Linked DNA regions of Homo sapiens: region 2 is linked to region 1. Evidence: fine-mapped expression QTL. Tissue or cell type: whole blood. Region 1 holds a variant in brackets; the other region holds the start of a gene. All regions are shown on one strand. Distances are between the middles of the regions.

Evidence for each region. PIP is the estimated chance that this variant, and not a neighbour inherited with it, causes the effect.
Region 2: it holds the start of BLK, and the variant in region 1 is fine-mapped to the expression of BLK in whole blood (TOPMed, PIP 0.95).

The regions. Positions count from the first base shown.
Region 1 is chr8:11,553,566-11,564,604 of GRCh38, forward strand. It overlaps BLK (BLK proto-oncogene, Src family tyrosine kinase), which reads left to right. Exons shown (of 13, transcript NM_001715.3): 7 at 1,178-1,324; 8 at 1,767-1,919; 9 at 3,093-3,272; 10 at 4,397-4,473; 11 at 7,737-7,887; 12 at 9,414-9,545; 13 at 10,338-11,034. The coding sequence ends at 10,543. BLK-AS1 (BLK antisense RNA 1) reads right to left here and starts at 4,700. Exons shown (of 5, transcript XR_948956.3): 1 at 4,325-4,700; 2 at 2,501-3,096; 3 at 2,153-2,297; 4 at 579-638; 5 at 1-15. RefSeq lists enhancers at 4,870-5,159, 9,806-9,855. The variant C/G (reference allele first, on the strand shown) is at 4,110.
Region 2 is chr8:11,489,618-11,498,756 of GRCh38, forward strand. BLK (BLK proto-oncogene, Src family tyrosine kinase) reads left to right here and starts at 4,770. Exons shown (of 13, transcript NM_001715.3): 1 at 4,770-4,974. RefSeq lists cis regulatory regions at 2,129-3,389, 3,463-5,083 and enhancers at 2,552-2,701, 4,703-5,902, 4,792-4,981, 4,992-5,081.

The DNA.
Region 1 (11,039 bases):
CGACACAAGTGCAGCCTACAAAATGGAGAGAAAAGCCCTTGATGAATGAACTCCCTAAGGCCAGGCTCGGGTTCCTTAGAGACTGGGGGCACAGCTGCACCCGGGCAGGGTCGGGGAGACAGTTTGCAGCCTCTGGGCTGAGGCTGGGGTGGGGGTGTGGAGGGGCTGTGGCAACAGCATGGCGTACGCCTCTGGGTGTCCTTTTGCAAGTAGGTGATGAGAGAGGCACATTGGCTGAGGGAAACTGGAGGATGGAAGGGGGTTGAGGCAGGGGAACTGACAGGAGAGGAAAGAGCCTTAAGTCAAACAGGACCGCGGAAAACCAAGCGTCCACAACGAGAACGAGGGGTCCGTGCCTGACCCCTGGCGGGGAGGCGTGGTACTGCTCGAGGTAGGCGCGGACTCGGGGAACCGGGAGCCCCCCAGCCTGCCGCGAACTCTGCTGGGCCCCAGCGTCCTCATCTCCCAAATAATGGGTAAGGGGCGGGGTAAGGTCATGGTACCCAAGTAGCTGGACAGACGCATTTTATAAAAACATCAAGTTCATGGAAAAGCGTTTCTTACCTGGAAATTCTTACCTCCTAAATTGTCCTTAACCCTTGACATCTGCTACCACTTGCCTGCGGGAAAACATTAACCTAGAAGACAAAATAACAGGTGTATGTAACAGGCAGCAAATGACTTTGAACAGAGCCCCTGGGCATAGCTTATTACGGTGTCCGCCATGGACATGGGTACTTGCAGCTGTGAATGGCTATCTGCTTGTAGGAGTAAGAGATACCCTCTTTAGCCAGAAAATAAAGCCCCTAGTCACTCCAACGAGACTAGATTTCTCAATAGTCCATGACAAAGGGTCCCCGAGTGACCAGATGCCCAAGTGGGGACCTACATGATTGCTGAGAAACTGTGCTGCCTGCCGCAGGGCTCTGTGATTCCCTGGCTGAGTTTTGCAGGATAGTGGGGGGATGCCAAGGTCAGAGTCAGATGGAACTTACAGGGGAGGCTTCCAAAAGCATGGAGGTTGAGATGCAGGGAAAGGAAACTTGTGGAGGGAGTGCTGATAATGAAGAACAGAATTGGGGAACTTTTTTCAAAGCTTTAAAATGAGGCCCAAATCCCAGTCCCGTTTTTTGTCTTTGTGCCTTACTTCTCGTGTGTGTCTTCATGAACCCTCCAGGTGCCTTCTCCCTGTCTGTGAAGGATGTCACCACCCAGGGGGAGCTGATCAAGCACTATAAGATCCGCTGCCTGGATGAAGGGGGCTACTACATCTCCCCCCGGATCACCTTCCCCTCGCTCCAGGCCCTGGTGCAGCACTATTCTAGTAAGAGGGGGCGTGCAATGGGGGCAGGGACTTGTGCCAAGAGCCCCTGGATCTCTCGCTAAGATTCCCAATTGTGTGAGTCATTGGTGCCACCTTGGGGGATGGAAAGATTATCCCAAAGTTAGGCCTAAGGAGGTAGCAACTCTGAGCACCGGGAATTGGTGGCCCTAATTCCCTCTCCTGGCTCAGCAGGGAACCCCTTAGAGAGTAGCAAGCATTTTCAGTCTTAGAGTGAGCAGGTCGATTTTAGAGATAGCATGCCCTGCTTTGCGCAAACGAAGAGAAAGAGTTGAGTGTGTGTGCATGTGCAGGCGTGTGCACACACCCATGCAGGGGGTGGGGTGGCTGGGGAGTGGAGGGCCAGCTAGGAATGATACAGCTCCCAAGGTAGAGCCTGGCTGCTCTGGTAACCCCCAGCCCTGTCTTTTCTTCCCTAATGCAGAGAAGGGGGATGGTCTATGCCAGAGGCTGACCCTGCCCTGTGTGCGCCCGGCCCCGCAGAATCCCTGGGCCCAGGATGAATGGGAGATCCCCCGGCAGTCTCTCAGGCTGGTCAGGAAACTCGGGTCTGGACAATTCGGCGAAGTCTGGATGGGTGAGTGTGTGCACACGTGGGAGCATTTCTCCCCCCATTCCACCTGCGCCGCATCCTGAGTCCAGGTTCAGCATTTTCATAGCGTGTCATCCCTCCCCCAGAAGTCTTGAGAGGGAGCGAGGACAGAGGCGAGGACACTCATTTTACAGAGGAGGAAGTGGAGGTGCAGAGCCGCGTTGTAACAGCTGGGACCGCTTATGGTGGTGGCAGAGCAGGAACAGAATCCAGCTCACCCAGCCCCGAAGTCGCTCCCTCCTTCGTTCTCTGCCTGAAGCTGGCTTTGACAATGAGCTGCAGCGGCGCGTTAACTCCCCTTAGCTTTTCATCACCCAGATGGAAACAGGAGGTTAAACGTGATGAGCCATGATGTTCCAGAGCCTGAGTGCACACCGAGGGCAGCCGTGGGACTTTGGCCAAGTCACTGAAGCTCCAGGCCTGGTGTCCTCACATTTCCATCGCTGCTGACACCTGCCCCCTTCCCCCCCCCGCCCACCAGGATATAAAACTCGTGTTCCGTTTTATCCCTGGATTGGTCCATGAGTCCTCCCTTACCTGGGGCTGGTCCATGAGTGCTCCCTTACCTGGGGCTGATGCCCACGGTGCTTTTGGCAGGAGCTGTACCCAGGTCCCTGCCAAGGCCCATGTCCTCTAGAAAAGCAAGTAGAGTTGTCTTTTGCCCTTCAGGGGACTTCATGGAGTACAGGGAGAGTGTGGAGATACAGATAGTTTAAGGAGTGGGACAGGATCGCCATGGGGCTTCAGAAGGAGGGAAGGAGACCCCCATGCGTCATCCTCCTGCCCAGTGTACCCCAGGCTGTGTGCTTATTTCCACCAAGGAGTTATTGTGTGATAGAAGAGACTCATTATGTAGGGGAGGGGTGGGGGAAGGACACAGGTTCCGTGCAGGACAGAAGGACACAGGCCCAGGGTGTGGGGCAAATAGGTGAAATGCCCCCCAGGCAGGGTACATTCCTCCACTGCCTGAGGCCCCATATAGAAGGGACCTGGAACGCAAGGTAGGCACCACACAACCATGGCCTCCGGAACTGCATGTTCCAGCTCTGGCACCTGGAATGGGGTGGCACCTGGGCACTTACCCCGATTTTGGTTAAGGGATCACCTCCGAGCAAGCTCTCTGTCTTCTGATTGGCTTCTTCACTCCCCCGGGCTCAGGTTACTACAAAAACAACATGAAGGTGGCCATTAAGACGCTGAAGGAGGGAACCATGTCTCCAGAAGCCTTTCTGGGTGAGGCCAACGTGATGAAGGCTCTGCAGCACGAGCGGCTGGTCCGACTCTACGCAGTGGTCACCAAGGAGCCCATCTACATTGTCACCGAGTACATGGCCAGAGGTGGTGCCCCCCGCAGAGCCGCATCCTCAGAGCGAGGCGGGAGGGCCGGGCTTAGCAGGAGGAGGAGGGTCCGCTGCGGTGGGTTCACCAGGCCAGGGGGTCCTGCAGATCTAGGGCATGGCACGGTGTGGGGACAGGGAGGGATGGAGGGAGGGGGAGGGACAGAGGGAGGGTGAGAAACAGGAGGGTGAAGTGGTTCTGACAGAGCCATGTTCTCAGCCCAGGAGCAGTTCAGACAGCATTTCTGGAGTGCATCTTCTGTGCCTAGCACTCTTTGATGCCTGCTGGGAGGGACAGAGCATTGCAAAGTCAGACGAACACCAGGCCAGGCATGCAGGGACAGTACTAGATCCAGGTCTCCTGCCTCCTGGTCATGCAACCATTTACAACTGTGTGAATATTTTACAAGGATGGCCAGAGAGGTTGGGCTTGATGGCCTCTGAGGTCCACGGCGTGGCCAAGTTCTCATGCCACTTTCTCACCCTCCTATGACCCTGACCGCACACTGCTCCTATAGGATCCTAACATGCCCATGTTGATATAGCTCCCTAACAACTGTCACCAAGGGGCCCCCGGTCGGAGGCTGTGCTGGGGGTGCCTCTAGCCTGCCCCTAGGGCAAGCATCCATCCCTCCCAGCTTTCTGATTCCAGGGGGAGCTGCATTTGTCCCCTGCACCAAACCTGGGGGACAGTTCTCTCCATTCTGGTGCTTTCTTGCTGATGCCTGGTCCTCAGAGGCAGAGGGTGTCTGCCAGCAGGGATCAAGGGAGCGAGGCCAACACGGGGGGAAAGACAAGAAGGGGCATGAAACTTCGAGTCAGAACTGGGGTCCCACTC[C/G]CAGCTCCCGGCTGGGTGACTTCAGACAGGTCCCTGCACCTGGCTGAAACCTAACTTCTGGGCAACTGCTGGTATATTGGCTGCCTCCCGGGGTGCTGAGACTGGCATTTTGTAAAGTGGAAGGCACTCGGCAGCAGTAGGTAGATCCTTCCTGATGCACCGAGAGATCTGAGGGTGCAAACTCCCACTTCCCGCGCCCATGGGGAGCCACTCACACCAGAGAGAGGCTGGCACCACCAGGGGCGGGTCACTTTGCAGAAGGGCACTTGCAACTTCTCTTTTCTTAGGATGCCTGCTGGATTTCCTGAAGACAGATGAAGGGAGCAGATTGTCACTCCCAAGGCTGATTGACATGTCGGCGCAGGTTGGTGAAGTACCAGGTGCAGAGAAAGGGCGGCATGTGCCACCTGCTGCCCACAATGGCTGCTCGTGCCTTACCACCCCATCCTCTCAGCCAGCAGGAGAAGTCAGGGGGTACTGAAGGCCACCTTCCTCTAGGCAGATATCCCCAAGGTCACCCACTGCACTTGGACTTGCAAACCCTGGCCACTGTGCCTCCTGCCCCACGCAGCTGTGAGGGAGCCCAGGGAATGGAGCCTTAGACCCGGGCTGCTGTGTTGGAATGAGGCTATTCTGTTCCGAAGGAAGAGAGGGCGAATGAATGTCATGGGAAACACACAGAGTTAGCAAGAGTTCCATTGAACCCGGCAGGCAAGTGTGTTCTGTTGTGACCTCATCTCTTCCTTAGATGGTGCCCACAAACATCTCCTGTAGGACTTCCCATCCCAGGGGCCCTCAGCCTTTGCACAGCCCTGGCGTCGACCCCAGGCTGATGGGCAGGCCTGAGCTACACACAGATGCCAGGGACATGACTTCTCTGAGCCCTGGAGGACAGCCCCACCTTCTGCCACCAGGGAATTGCGAGTGCTGGACCTCCTTGGCTACCCAGGACTGGTCCTCAGTGTCCCTCACGTTCACATGCAGAACTTTCTGGACTCCATGGGGTGAAGAGCAGAGTGGAGAGGAGGGTTTTAGCCGAGAGCTCTAGCTGGCAGGAAGCACATCTGGTGGCCCTGTTAAAACTGGAACTCTCAGCAGAAAAGTTTTGGTCTGTGGTCAGCCTGTGAGGCACACACGTGCGTACACATACACACACACATACAGCTGCCACCGAGAGGAAACGCTCCCACCCACCGCCCACATCAGCCCTCCCACCTCGCCCCTCGCCCAGCCTTACCCAGTAGCGCCGCTGCAGGAACTGATGCCACAACGCCTTTTTCCGCTGAGGTGGGCAGACAGCCATCTGGGCAGGCTGGTTTTGGAAAATGAGTGCTGGTAACCGGCTTCAAACCCCAGGGCAGTGATAAGCCTGCCCACTGCTGCTGCTTCCTTTCCCCTTCCTTCTCTCACCCTCCGCTGTCTCCTATTCAATCCCCACTACACCCCCTTGGGAAATCTCGTGTGACCCAGGGGCAAAGGATGTGAAAAGCCATCGGAGTTTAATACCTGGATGTAGCCACAGAATCGGGGGTGAGGAGCCAGAAAATCAGAACTTCCCAGAAGGGCAGCCTCTAACCACATGCTGACCATGCCAATGGCTCTCTAAGCACACATGTACACACACACACTCTCACACACATAAAAACACAGACTCACACACACACGGACAAACACAAACACATACACAGACTCACACAGACACGCAAACTCACACACAGACAGACACACACACAGACACACAGACTCACACACACAAACTCACACAGACACACAAATACACAGACTCAGACTCAAACACAAACTCACACAAACACATTTACACAAACTCACAAACTCACACACACAAACACACACACAAACACGCAAACTTACACACACATGAGCAGACACACACCCGGCCCTTCTGGGCTCTTCTTTTCTTACTCCATAGGAAGCCATGCAAAGTCTCGCCAGACCTTTCTTCCAAGGCCAGATCTGGCCAACCCCACAGGAACCCTGCAATCACAATCCCTCGGGCCCCACTTTGCAGCCAGATGCCACCGGTTCCCATGCCCCATGCCTCGCCACCCCTCTACCTCCTCTGCCCAGGAAGCCTTGAACACTTCCCACCTGGCAGAATCCTTATCATCATCCATGGCTCAAGCGTAATGTCATTTCTATGAAGGTTTCCCTGGACAAGAAACTGCCAGAGAGCCCTTAGCTCAGGTGTTCCCGGAAGCACTGTTCTTGCTCAGCAGATCTGGGCAGCTTCTTCTTGAAAGCAGATCTGGGCCCTACTCAACATTTTTTAAAATATATTTCTGGTACTGTTCAATAAATATTAGTTATCAGAACGAGTACTGTTAGATGCTGCCCAGATATATTTAGTACTCAGTTTTATATTCCCCACAGTCCCATATTAGTAAATGAGTATTGATTGCATGGTGTAGCAAGGGGATGGATGGATGCATGGATGGGTGGATGCGTGGGTGGGTGGGTGGGTGGGTGGGTGGGTGGATGGATGGATGCATGGATGGATGGATGGATGGATGGATGGATGGATGCATGCATGGATGGATGAATGGGTGGATGGATGGATGGGTGGGTGGGTGGGTGGATGGATGGATGGATCCATGGATGGATGGATACATGGAAGGATGCATAGATGGATGGATGGATGGATACATGGATGGATGCATGGATGTGTTGATGGATGGATGGGTGGGTGGATGGATGGATGCATGGATGGATGGATGCATGGATAGATGGATGGATTCATAGATAAACCAACAAAATGCAAGCATAAGGAGAAGTGGAATCAATTCTAGTGCTGGCTTCTTGAAGTCGCATGTCTGAAGAGGTAAATGGGGTCTCTGCTTTCTGCCTCAGTTTCTTCGTCCATTGATTGGGTGAATAAAGCCTTAGTTTCCTCAGCTAAAAGGTGCCAAGTAGCACCAGCTGCTATCCCTGGCCCAGGCTGGTGATCAGGGGAGGAGAGACAAGTCTCTTCTTCTTCACAGCCTCTGTCCACCTGGATCTGCCAGTGCTCCCTGGGTGCCCCCACGGGGCAGGCGCTGGGTGAGGTTCTTGGTCACAAATCAACCTCGTCTAATGCTTGCCTCAACCCCCTGCCCTGGAGACCACATCCCTCATGTTCCATGTCAGGACTGTGGCCCCTCGGGGAGGTTAAGCAGCTTGCTAGAGGTCAGCGACTTCCCGAGGGCCTCCAGCTCCAGGAGCTGTGCTTCCAGCCAGCCAGTGAGAGCTGCCTGTCCTTGCCTCCTGCTCCCCCTCCCCCTCCTTCCTTACCATTTCTTCTCTTCTCCCTCCCTCTCCTTTTCTCCTGCCTGTGTTCTTCTATCTTCCATCTCTGCAGACCCTTGGACACAGCTGTGTGGAGCGAGAACGAGGAGGGGGAGGGGCACAGGTAGCCCCTGTGTCTCTGATGCCCACGTTGCTGCGTTGCTGTTCTGGGCTTCTAGGAGAGGAGTTTATTCGGCTGAGGAGCAACACAGTCACCTTTCTACTCCATCCAAGAAACAGCTCCTTCCCCAGCAGCCCACAGGGGCTGTGCGGGGGACACAGTGTGGGCTCGGTCTTGGCGTGGAGGCCCCCAGGCTGTCCTTCACCATGTGCCTGTTCCCTCAGATTGCTGAAGGGATGGCATACATTGAGCGCATGAATTCCATCCACCGCGACCTGCGGGCGGCCAACATCCTGGTGTCTGAGGCCTTGTGCTGCAAAATTGCTGATTTTGGCTTGGCTCGAATCATCGACAGTGAATACACGGCCCAAGAGGGTAAGCACAGCCCCTAACCACAAGGGAAACCTAGGGCCTTATCTTTCCCAGCTCCTCAAAGCCGCCTTTAACTTCTCCCAGCACAGCCCTGAGGGAAGACACCTGAGGGCTATACGGTTTCTACAGCTCTAGATCAGCATTTCCTTCATTTACCCAAATGTGTTCAGCAGAATGGTAGTGCCCTGAGACCTCCCATGGAGGAACAGCTTTAGGATAAGGTAGGTTTGGAGAAACAGCAGTCCACCCTACTCCCTGTCTTGGAGATTCCCAGTGCACATCAACATATTAAAGGCACTGAGAAGTCCTGCAGCAAAGAAACAGTTTATGTTTGCCTCACCTAGTGCCTCCCAAACTAATTTGAGCTCCAAATACTATTTTTTTTTTTTTTGAGATGGAGTCTCTGTCACCCAGGCTGGAGTGCAGTGGCACAATCTTGGCTCACTGCAACCTCCGCCTCCTGGGTTCAAGCAATTCTTCTGCCTCAGCCTCCCAAGTAGTTGGGATTACAGGCGTGTGCCACTACACCTGGCTAATTTTTGTATGTTTAGTAGAGATGGGGTTTCACCATGTTGGCCAGGCTGGTCTCGAACTCCTGAATTTAGGTGATCTGCCTGCCTTGACCTCCCAAAGCGCTGGGATGACAGGTGTAAGCCATGCCCAAATACTATTTTTATATAGTCCCTATTAACCTTCCATGGAATTAGGCTTTCACAGAGCACACTGTGGGAAACACAGCTCTCATGTGCGATCAGCAAACCAACCTGTATTAGGGTGTCCACGGAGCACTGTTTTACTCTGTGCATATAACTGAGGTGGAAATCTACGTCACAAGAGAATCTGAAGGGGTCACATATATTTATCAAGCTAGCAAGCAGTGTCTGCTGAGCCTATGAGTCAGATGACAAGCAGACAGGATATGGCTTGTTCTCTCGGGAACTTCAGGCTGGCTGGGGAGACCGAGAAATGGAGGCCAGGGGAGGCTGTGAAGTGCCAAGCCCTGAGGTCTGCTCCAAATGCTGGCCGGGGCTGCAGCCATTGAGGTGCTTCACAGGGCAGCCGGATGTGAGTTCTTCCTCATAGCGGCCCTCGGAGGTACAAGTGTCACCATTTCCATTTTGCAGGAAGGGACTAACGGAGGCGCCCGCAGGTTTAAATGGCTTGCCCAGGCCATGTCTTTTAAATTAAACAAGGCCCCTGTAAGGTGAAACAGGCCCCTTCCATCCCAGGTGGAAACGTGGTGGCTGCCCATTGAGGCCATCGCTCTCTTTTTAAAGAACCAAAGTGGGTGACTGTGTGGTATTGGTGTCCATATCGTCTTTCTGTGCTGCTGATGTCGTGTCTGCACTCACCTGGTCATGTGTCCTGGTGTGCGGTAGTGGCTCCCCCGCCATGCCTGGCCGCCCCGCCCTGTGAGGCCCCGCAGTGGGGGCTTGATGGAAGGACAGCAGGAGCAGGGGTAGGGGTGAGGATGGAGGGTAGGGGCCACCGGCCGTGGCCTCCCAAAGCTTGCATGGCTTTTCCCACAGGGGCCAAGTTCCCCATCAAGTGGACAGCCCCGGAAGCCATCCACTTCGGGGTCTTCACCATCAAAGCAGACGTGTGGTCGTTTGGAGTCCTCCTGATGGAAGTTGTCACTTATGGGCGGGTGCCATACCCAGGTAGGTGGCTCACCCCGCAGCTCGCGGCTCCCTGCTTTCCCGGCCGGCCCTGATGGCAGGTCGCCTGTGCTTGGTGCCTGTGGCTGCCCTGTTCTTTTCAGAGTGAGTCCCAGAGCGAAGACGGAGACCCAGGCATGGCATCTGGGGTGGAGCTCTGCCCCCTGCATCACTATTGCTCTGGGCCACAGGGCTGTGTCTCCTTCCTCCAGCAGAGGTCAAATGAGTCCCTCAAACTGAAATCAAGACAAAGGGCACATCCGAACTCAAGTTTACTCCCAGTGGCTTGTTCTCAGTTGAGGACAGGTTGTGCCTACCTTGGCTTTGCACCCATAGTGGATTCCCCAAAGCCCCTTCCTGTGTGGCCAGAATCGTGGACGACAGCCCCCAGCCCCAGTCGAAGGGCTCCAGCCACTTGGCCCCCACAGGTGGGCAGGCTCCGGGTCACCTGCTGCTGTGTGCACCTGGCAGCTGCCCATGAGTGATGGGCTTGGCTGTGCCCCTGGTGGTCACAGGTAATCAAGAGAGGGAGGGTCCCATCTTCAGAGGACCTGCCCCGTACTCAGGAGAAAATCTACAGCCTCATTTCTAGGCATTCCCCAGGCAATAAAAAGTAAATAAAGGGCTGTTTAGAGACCGGGCAGCCAGGCAACGCACGAGGCTGGAGAAGTGGTCTGGGACTGTGGGCACTGCTGTCCCTTGCCTGGGCCCACTGTGCCCCGCGGGACGCTCAGGGCCCCCCACCCACCGAGGACCCCAGCCCCTCACCCCCGCTTGCGGTCTCCTCTGCCGCAGGGATGAGCAACCCCGAGGTCATCCGCAACCTGGAGCGCGGCTACCGCATGCCGCGCCCCGACACCTGCCCGCCCGAGCTGTACCGCGGCGTCATCGCCGAGTGCTGGCGCAGCCGGCCCGAGGAGCGGCCCACCTTCGAGTTCCTGCAGTCGGTGCTGGAGGACTTCTACACGGCCACCGAGCGGCAGTACGAGCTGCAGCCCTAGCCGGCCGCGCCCGCCTGCGCCCCGTGCCCACCTCTGCGCGGACGACCCCGACTTCCGTGCCATCCCAGACGGGCCGCGAAGGCGGGGTGTCGCCTGTGCCCTTTTCTCAGACCCGGAATCCAGTGGGCAGAGGCAGCTTCGCAGGGGGTCCCCGGACGGACTCCTTCACCGACTGCACCCCCGGGCGAGTTACGCGGCCTCTCTGTGCCGCTTCATTTGTAGAGGGCTGTAACAGTGACCTCGCACGGTCATCCGGAGTACTAAGCCCCAGTAAGGTGTTCAGGACTGGTAAGCGACTGTCATCAAGTAAGGCCCCCGTGCTGGGCACCCCCCGTGCTGGCCGCGTCCCCGCCTCTGCGCCCTGCGTGGACCCCGCCCTGCCCCGCTACAGAAGCCAGACTGGGTCCCGCGGACGCCAGCAGGGGCAGCCCCAGCCTAGGCTGCGCTCCAGCACTGCGGGGCTTTTCTGCAATAAAGTCACGAGCGTTCGAGCTGT
Region 2 (9,139 bases), 65 kb before region 1:
GTAAGTTAATGGTATTTACTCACATGGAGACTTTTCAACTTTTTAAAAAAATAATTGTTCTGTGCCTCTTTCTCTTTCCTCTCCTTTTGGGACTCCTATTACATTTGTGTTTGAACACTTTATATTGTCTGGCAGGTCTCTAAGGCTCTGTTTACTTAACTTTTCGTTCTCTGTTCTTTGGATTGCATAACTTCTGCTCTATCTTCAAATGTACAGCTTCTTTCTTCTGCCGTCTCAGATCCGCTCTTGAACCCATGTAGTGAATTTTTGTAATTTTCAGCTGTAGAAATCCCATGTGATTCCTTTTTTATAATTTTCATCTATCTATCCAAAGTATCTATTGGTTCACTGTTAACAAAATTTTCTTTAATTCTTTGAACATTTTTCCTTAATTCCTTGAGCATAGCTATAACAACTTCTTTGAAGTTGTGTCTTAATCTACTGTCTGTGTTGGTTTTTCTGGTCACACTTTCCTGTTTCATTGTATGTCTAGTAATTTCTGGTTGAAAACTAGACATTGCAGTGATTCTAGACTCCATTCACTTTCCTAAAAGTTGTTGGTTTTCTGTTTTAGTAACTTTTCTGGACTTAAATTGCAGAATTAATCTCCTCCATGGTGTGCAGCCACTGATACTACAGTGCAGTTTTTATTATAATATTTTTCTTTGTTTTTCAGTCTGGCTCCCTAAAGGTGTCCTCTATTCTTGTATTATATGATGATGAGACAATTATTTAGACAGAAGTTATGCTCAGGTACCTTGAACAACTAAGCCTCCCATCTTCTGCTGCCAGAGCTGTGTGTGGCCGAAGAAACACATTCACATGTACAAGTCCTCACGGAAGGTGGGAGGGTGAGACAGGGGTGAGGGTTGAAAAAGTACCTATTTGTTCCGATAGGTACTTTTTGTGGCAAAACCCTGTCTCTACAAAAAATACAAAACACTAGCTGGGTGTGGTGGCATGTGCCTGTGGTCCCAGCTACTTGGAGGCTGAGATGAGAGGATCACTTGAGCCCAGGAAGTCAAGGCTGTAATGAGCTGTGACTACATTATGGCACTCCAGCTTGGGGGACAGAGTGAGACCCTGTCTCAAAGAAGGAAAAAAAAAACTACCTATTGGGTACAATGTTTACCATTTAGGTGATGGGCACACTAAAAACCCAGACTTCGCCACTATGCAATATATGCATTGTAAGAAACATGCACTTGTACCCCTTAAATACATAAAAACAAATAAATTTTAAACTAAACAAAAAAATTTTTGCACATCGTCAGGTCTCCCTTGGCTCTCACTTTTTGCTGCCTTTTTGGGTTTCTTCCCTAGTCAGAGATGTGCAGGGAGTTTATTGTCCCAGCCCTCTCATGGCTTGCTTACTTCCAAGTTCTCATCACAATTCTGGCTGATCTCCTGTCTACCATGAAAAGAAGCTATAATCTCAAGCCAGTAAAGCTGCAGATTTTTATTTTCTCCCTAGAACTGATTCCATGAACTTTAACCCATAAAATGCAGATTCTCATCTCCCCCATCCCAGACCAAATCTACCAACTTCTGCTGGTATAGCTACTAGTTTTCTTTTTATCTATTTATTTATTTAATTTATGTTTGAGGTGGAGTCTCGCTCTGTCACCCAGGCTGGATTGCAGTGGTGCGATCTCAGCTCACTGCAACCTCTGCCTCCCGGGTTCAAGCGATTCCTGTGCCTCAGCCTCCCTAGTAGCTAGGACTACAGGTACCCACCACCACACCGAAATAATTTTTGTATTTTTAGTAGAGATGGGGTTTCACCATGTTGTCCAGGCTGGTCTCGAACTCCTGACCTCAAGTGATCTGCCCCGCCCTCAGCCTCCCAAAGTGTTGTGATTGCAGGCTTAAGCCACCGCTCCCTGCCTAGCTACTGGTTTTCAGTGACAGCCCTCAAACCAAGTCCACCATTCCCATTAGGTAACCTGTGCTTTTCCTCACTCAGGCCAGGGGCTGGGGAGCTTCAGGCAAGATGTCCGTAGACTCATGGCCATTCTGATGCAGGCCATTTTTAAGATTAAACACTTATCAGATCATTGTCTGCTTTTGGTTTTTCTAGTACCCAGAAACAAACATTTTCTAGTACCCAGAAATTGTTGTTTCTGACAATTTTGTCTAGTTTTATACTTGTTTTCTTCAAAAAGAAATTGGCCAACTTCTTAGACCCTTCTGAGGTGAATCTTGGACTGGATTGGTTTTATGTTTCTTCCACTTACTTTATTGCCTACAGCTTTTGATTTTGATCAGAGATGTACTGATATTAGGAGGCTGGTGAAGGCACATGGAAGGAGAGCTGAATTTTGCATAAGTCACCTCAAATGTACAAAAATAAATGGCAGAACCAGTGATGCTGAACGCTGAACTGGGCGTTTCAGAGCTAGGGTCTAGTCTCAGTCCCGCCTTGAGAAAACCGCTTTGAGGTTTTCTACCAAAAGGCTCCCCAGCCTCCCCTAACAAGTGTCACTGTTCCCATCTTCTCCCCGGGGTCCTTTCCCCACCTCTCTTCCGCCTTTCTCATGGGCCCGTGACTGTGAGGGTGAAAATGGCTGAAATTAACTTTCACTTCTGCTCAGACATCTGGAACCCATGAGCAAAGTCATTTCCTTGTTTTCTTTCTGAGTGGCTGCTGGAATCGTGTGTGTGTGTGTGTGTGTGTGTGTGTGTGTGTGTGTGTGTGTGTGTCTGGTATTGTTATTTTCCAACCTCTGTCTGTTGGGGTGGGCATAAAGGTGATGTCTTATCACAGATCACATAAGGGCCAGCACACCTCCCTGCAAACTCTCACATCCCCTCCCACTCTAACCTTGGGTAGACAGACCATGTATTTTCTTTGTAGGATGCTGGGTTTCCTGCTCTCCACTACATTCTCTATACCCTCAAGTCCAAGTATATAAAAGTTGTCCAAACGTCAGCTATTTAGGCCCTATTGAAAAAATGTTAGAGGCGGTTCAGGCAGCGTCACAACATCCTGGTTCAGTAAAAGACTCAGCCTAGGGATCTGTCTCTGAGAGTCTGTAGGAGTCTTAGTCACGAATCATGTTCAAAGCCTTCTCCTTGGCAGCTTCCCCCAGTGACCCCTGATAGAATTATTGCCTCCGCCTCTGGTCTAGCACTGTGCCCCGTTGAGGCCTCTGTGGCTACATCTACTACGCTCCACTGCAGTGATCTGCTTATCAGGCCCCTTCTCCAAGCTCCTTAGGCTGAGACTCTCAGAGGAGGATGGAGTGTAGCTGCGTTGGTATCCCCAGCCTCCAGCAGGTGCTTAGCACAGAGCAGGTGTTCAGAAAAACAGTGCTGCATTAATTGAATTGAAATAGGAAGACTAAGTTACCTCATCTCAAATCAGTCACTTTTTAAATCAGAAGCTCGCAGAGTTTGGAACTCATGTTTCATGTTTGGATCCATGTAGTAGGTATCAGGAAGTGAATGTAAGAGTAAATTAACAGGAGCTGCCATGGACTGAGCAGGCCCAGGGTTCTGGACATTGTTGTGAGCCCTCTGCTACCACGTGGAGAAGATCAGCTTTGGGATTTAAAGCAATTAGCCACATTCACATCAGCTTCCAGGTATTTGCAGTTTATTATGTGCTAAATACTGTAATAGATACTTTTTATGCATGAATCCATTTATTCTCACAAAACCCCTTGGGGAAGTGAAACAGATTATTTCCATAGTGTCTTAAAACCCCAGAACTCTGCGTTGCTGCGTCTATTGACATGAACACCTGTCAAACCTGCAACTCATAGCTCAGTATTGTCTCAGTCCAATCCAAGGAAATGAACTCCTTGAGAAAGCTGACATTCTGGACCATGGGGTAGAAGCTACCCTGTCTGCCTCCCACACCCACTCTCAAGGATCCAAGACTATGAAGGGAGAAGAGAGAGCCCACCGAGTGACTTCCTCTTATAAGCCAATATCAAGACACTAGTGGAAAGGAACCAGCTGACCAGTGGCTCACTGTGTCTGGCTGGACCAGCAAGACTCTGACGTCATCACAGAAGCCTTCTTGGTCCCATTGGTCCTTTGACTGCTGTGTACAGGATGCCACCCACCACTCCAGACACCACTCACCACTCTAGATGTTGGGATCCTTCTCCCGTTACCTCCATTATTCTTGTTCTCTACTCCTCTGAGTTTTCATAGCCAAGCAAATTTCCACCATTGAAGAGGCTCTGAGATCCAAGTCAACTAACTACTGGCTAGGGTACTGTAAAACACATGGGAAATTAGCTTTTACCAAACACCAATTCTATGCCCACCATTCATACCCATTCTACCATTTAATGCTGATAGTATCCTGTGAGCTAGCTATTATTAGCATCATTTAAAGACAAAGCAAAACCAGTGAGGCTGAAAGAACGGCTGCCCTGGTGCACACAGATGGCACATGGCAGAGCCCAAGCCCTCTCCATGAGATCTGCAGCGTTTGTCCACACGGCAGGGCAAATTACCTTGTAGAGTCAGCATGGAGGTTTGCTAACTCTGCCGGACTTGGTGCAGAAAAAATACCAGCCGTGCTGTTAAACCAAAACCCCAGGAGAAAACTTTCTGGTGACAGAAGGGCATTGTGACCCACGTTGCCCAGGGCCAGGGACAGGGCAGCTGCTCATGGTCCTTCCTCACGAGTTTTCCTGGAGCAGAGGGATACCCCCAAACCCAGGGAGCCCACAGGAGCTTCAGAAGGGCTCGGCTGGAGGGCGGGGCCCCTGTTGCACTTGCTCACTGGGGACTGGGGAGGCTCTGATCGCAGACCGGGGGTGCTGCCACCTCTGTCTGCTGCCGGCAGAAAGCCACAAGCCATGAAAACTGATTGAGATGAGAAGAATTCATCTGGGACTGGCTTTTGCTTTAGGATGGTGTTGGAAGTTGCTCGTTGTCGCTAGGAGCCTGCTCCACTGTAAGGGTGTCAGGATCTGAAGAGCTATGGTGAAACACCACTGAAGCATTGCCAAGGTGAGGCCCTGCGTCTTCCGGGTTCTTTATCGTCTTCCTTTAAATTGTGCAAATGGTGCTGTAAGGCCTGTAGTGGGGCAAGCAAGCAAGGACATTGCTGTGGGTGCCACAGACGGAGGAAGAGGCATGAATGGATCGCTGCCTCAGCTATGAATAGATTGCTCCATGGTTTGTGCATTTCCAGTTTTGAGAATTTTTAATTTATAAAAGGTCATCCATCCAGGGTAGATTCTGCTTTTTGGAAAAGGCAGTGAATGTGCCACAGAGGAGAGAAGGGACGTGGGATGTAGAGAGGGGGTTGAGCGGGCACACACAGGCCACTGCTGCGCTCCCGGCGAGTCACTCGGCCTCTTGATAGGAGGTGATATTGACTGTGCAGAGCTGACAGAGGTTAGTGGTCACAGGCGGGGAGCATCTGGCTCAAGGCAAATGACTGTTGCTTTCGTTTTATTTGTTTGTTTCTGAATGAAGTTGTTCCATTTTTCAGGCATTCAGGAATGGGGTAACTGAATAGATGTAATGATGATCTTCTTGTTTAAGAGATCTATTTCACCAGGAAACACCAACTGTGAAAAGGAAAGCATAGTTGATCACATATTTTGAAAGGATTTGTGTAAATTGTAAGGTTTTGACAACGTTTCCATTTATCTGGTAATGCGGGTGGATGAAGTTCACCCTCATCCACCCACATTACCAAGGAACTAAGGAATTGTGCGTTTGCAGTAACAGAAGAAATTGCTGTGATATGTGCATATCCTCCTCCCTCGGGAGAGTGGGACTTAATTCCCCTCACCTTGAGTGAGGTTTGGACTAAGAGTATGGAAAGGGAGAAATAGTAGCTCTGTAGAGGAGAAACCTGCAGATGCCAGCTTCACCAAGGGACCAAGCTTAGCATCACCGGGAATAAGCTGGGCTGCTATTGTGAACTGCCACGACAGTGCGGTTCTTCCCACCAACTCATAACCCCAGTCAAATCATGAGAAAACATCAGACAAATCCAAACTGGGGAAGATTCCACAACATATTTCACCTTCAAAAATGTCAAGGTCATGAAAAACAAAGAAAGACAGGCAAAGCGTCACAGATCAGAGGAGACATGATGGTCAGGACACCCAAACCCAGAATTCGCATCCTGTATTGGATCCTAAAGCAACACCGCAAAGGTCATTAGTGGAAAAATAGGTGAAATTTTAACAAGACCTGGGGTCTCGCTAATATTGTGGTAACAATTACTGCTTAGTTCTGGCAAATGTACCATGGTTACGTAAGGTGTTCACATTAGAAGAACCTGGTGAAGGAAATATGGAAATTCTCTGTGCTATCCCTTGTAATTTTTCTCCAAATCTAAAATTACTGCAAAATAAAGAGTTAAAAAAAATTAGACTCATTCTTCCTCAGAGCAGGAGTAGCCAAATCCTGAGCATTCTTGGGAAAACTGGCGTTCATGGCCTGGTGATCACACCTTCTCTTTGAACATTCTGGAATATAGCAGGCCTTTTGAATTTTTGACCATCCATCATTCTCTCTCCCAACCCCTACCTGATTCCAGAATAGCTCTGTATTTGCCTCTCTTCATAGTATTTCTCATGGATGATTATATTGTTGTTGTTGGTGTCCAATGGGTTTTGTGGGGGTTGTTTTTCGTTTATGTTTTTTGTTTTTCAGAGATGGGGTCTTGCTCTGTTGCCCAGGCTGGAGTGCAGTGGCAAGAGATCATCGCTCACTGCAGCACTGACCTCCTGGGCTCAAGCGATCCTCCCAACTCAGCCTCCTGAGTAGCTGGGACCACAGGTACGCCACTGTATCTGGCTAATTTTTTAATCTTATTTTTTGAAGAGATGGGGTCTCGCTTTGTTGCCTGGGCTGATCTCCAACCCCTGGCTTCAAGCCATCCTCCCACTTTGGCCTCCCACAGTGCTGGGATTGCAGGCATGAGTCACTGTGACTGGCCCAGCATGCATTTTTGAGCCTTTGCTCTGTGGCAGGGGCTGCAGGACGGAATACACTCTCATCTGCCCAGCGAAGCTCACTGCACTGGTGCAGGCTCCTGGCACCCCAAGCACAGGCCCAGCTACCCAGACCTGACTCCTCTCCAGGAAGGAAGCAGAAAGCCAGGAATGGAGAGAATGAGGACCCAGGCCCCTGGGGGAGTACAGAATTCCAGCCAGGAATCTGCCGTCCTCTGGGCTCAACCACCCCACAGAATCTGGTCAGCCAAGTGGCTGTGAGCTGGGCTCGACAGCCCTTCCTCGAGAGTAAACTGTGGCCTCTAGGATGTAGAGAGGGGACTCAAAGGGCCAGATCCCATTTGAGTGAGGATTCTGACCTTGTGAGCCCACCTGCAGCCTGGGGTCTGCAGCCTTGGGGACTGGCCACCGGTGGCCAGCATCCTGGCTTGCAGGGTTCACGTGTATAGAGAGGTAACAGCAAGACAGAGAAACCTGGCCCCTCTTGCAGGCCCAGCAGAGCGGGTGAGCCCTACTCAAAGGTGATGCTGCGCCTGATTAGAGAAAAGCTTCCAAAGCAGGTGAGGAGGAAGAAAAAATGATGAAGCCGCAGGAAGACAGCACGTAGATGGAAATCTCAACATACTGAGATGGAAATCAATCACAAAACTCTTACAGGAAAATCACAGCTAAAAGTTGGTGATTACATGTGGGCCTGCAGTGCCTTTCCTGTCACATCTGCTACCCCACTGCCAGCCTGCTGCTACCCCACAGCAGCCCTCCCATTTGTGGAATGTTCCCTGGCGTGCTCCTGCTTGCCTGAATCCCTTCCCCACCTTCCCACCTAGGCAACTTGCATTTGCTCTGACGTCCAGGGCAGGTGCGAATGTCTCCTCCCAGTCACAGTGCCCAAGCCCATTTGTGTGTCCCCAGCAACCACCAGCACACACCCAGGGCTCTGGTTTGCAGGCCTGCCAGGTTCTCTGGACCAAAGCTCCTGAGGACAAGGACATGCCCTACATGTGCCTCCAGGTCCCAGCACCCAGCGCAGTGCCTGGCCCACCAGGGGTATCTGGTAAAGTGGTTCTTGAGTTAAAGACACAAGGGCAAAACCTTAAATGAAAATCAAGGTTAAGACATGAGGATGAAAGCTTGAAAGAGGAAAAGCAAAGATAATTGAATGATCATCCCTAATCGTGGTGCACCCCAGTGCCATCAGCATGCTGGGGTTTTGACAGGACCCTTGGAAGAAAGAGAAGAGGCATCTGAGGCCTCTGGCACATTCCACTTCCTGTAAGACAGTGTGGTATAGATGAAAGCATTGGGGCTTCCTGCCAGCCAGGTCAGTCTGGCTCTGCACCTGCCAGCTGGGAGTGTGAAGTGGGAGCAGTTGCACCCACTCTCAAGCACAGACATGAGAACTGAACAGAACCACGGAATGGGGGTCCAGAGCCCAAGACATAGACGAGGCTCCTCCTTGTCCACTGTGGGGCTTGTGCAACCCCTTCATCAAAGCGCTGGTGCTTTCCACATTGTAATCAAGGAAGTTTTCTCACGTTCCTTCTCATCACAACTAGCTGCTGGCCTTTTTGCACACTTTGGCACCTAGGATGCTGAACCTGGACCAGTGGGAGGCAAACAAGACACACCTGGGATGCAAAATGTAAGGAGGCTCCCATGCTCAGGTCGTTCAAGTGCAGGAAAAGTTTGTGTATGTGTGAAACGCACAATGCCATGTGGTGTCTATAAGGGCATTTGAGGTTCTGTGCTTAATAGATGAAGTGGGTTCTGAGCATTGAGTCTGTGGATTCCTGATGAGTTTCCTGGTGCTCTGAGCTCCGTGAACTTGTAAACAAGCTTTTGTGTAGGTGGGTACTTACAGTTTTTGTCAGATTCCCAAAGGGGTCTGTGAACCCCAAAATATTTGGAATCACACAGTCAAATATCTAGGAAGACTACTTTAATTTTCTCTCTCAGCGTGTTGTGGATATGAGGAAGTGGAAAGGACTTGGACATAGAAGTCAGACAAAGCAGCCACATCTGAGTGGTCTCGTCCTGCAGTGTAGTGGTTAGACGGCTGGCCTTGTCAACCAGAGGGCTCCAGTGCAAGGTTCAGCCCTGGCAATGTGAGCAAGTCACTGTGTGCCTTCCTGAGATGATAATAGTTTGACCCCACTGTATACGAGCAGCCTTACCTGTCTCGGGTAGGTTAATTATAT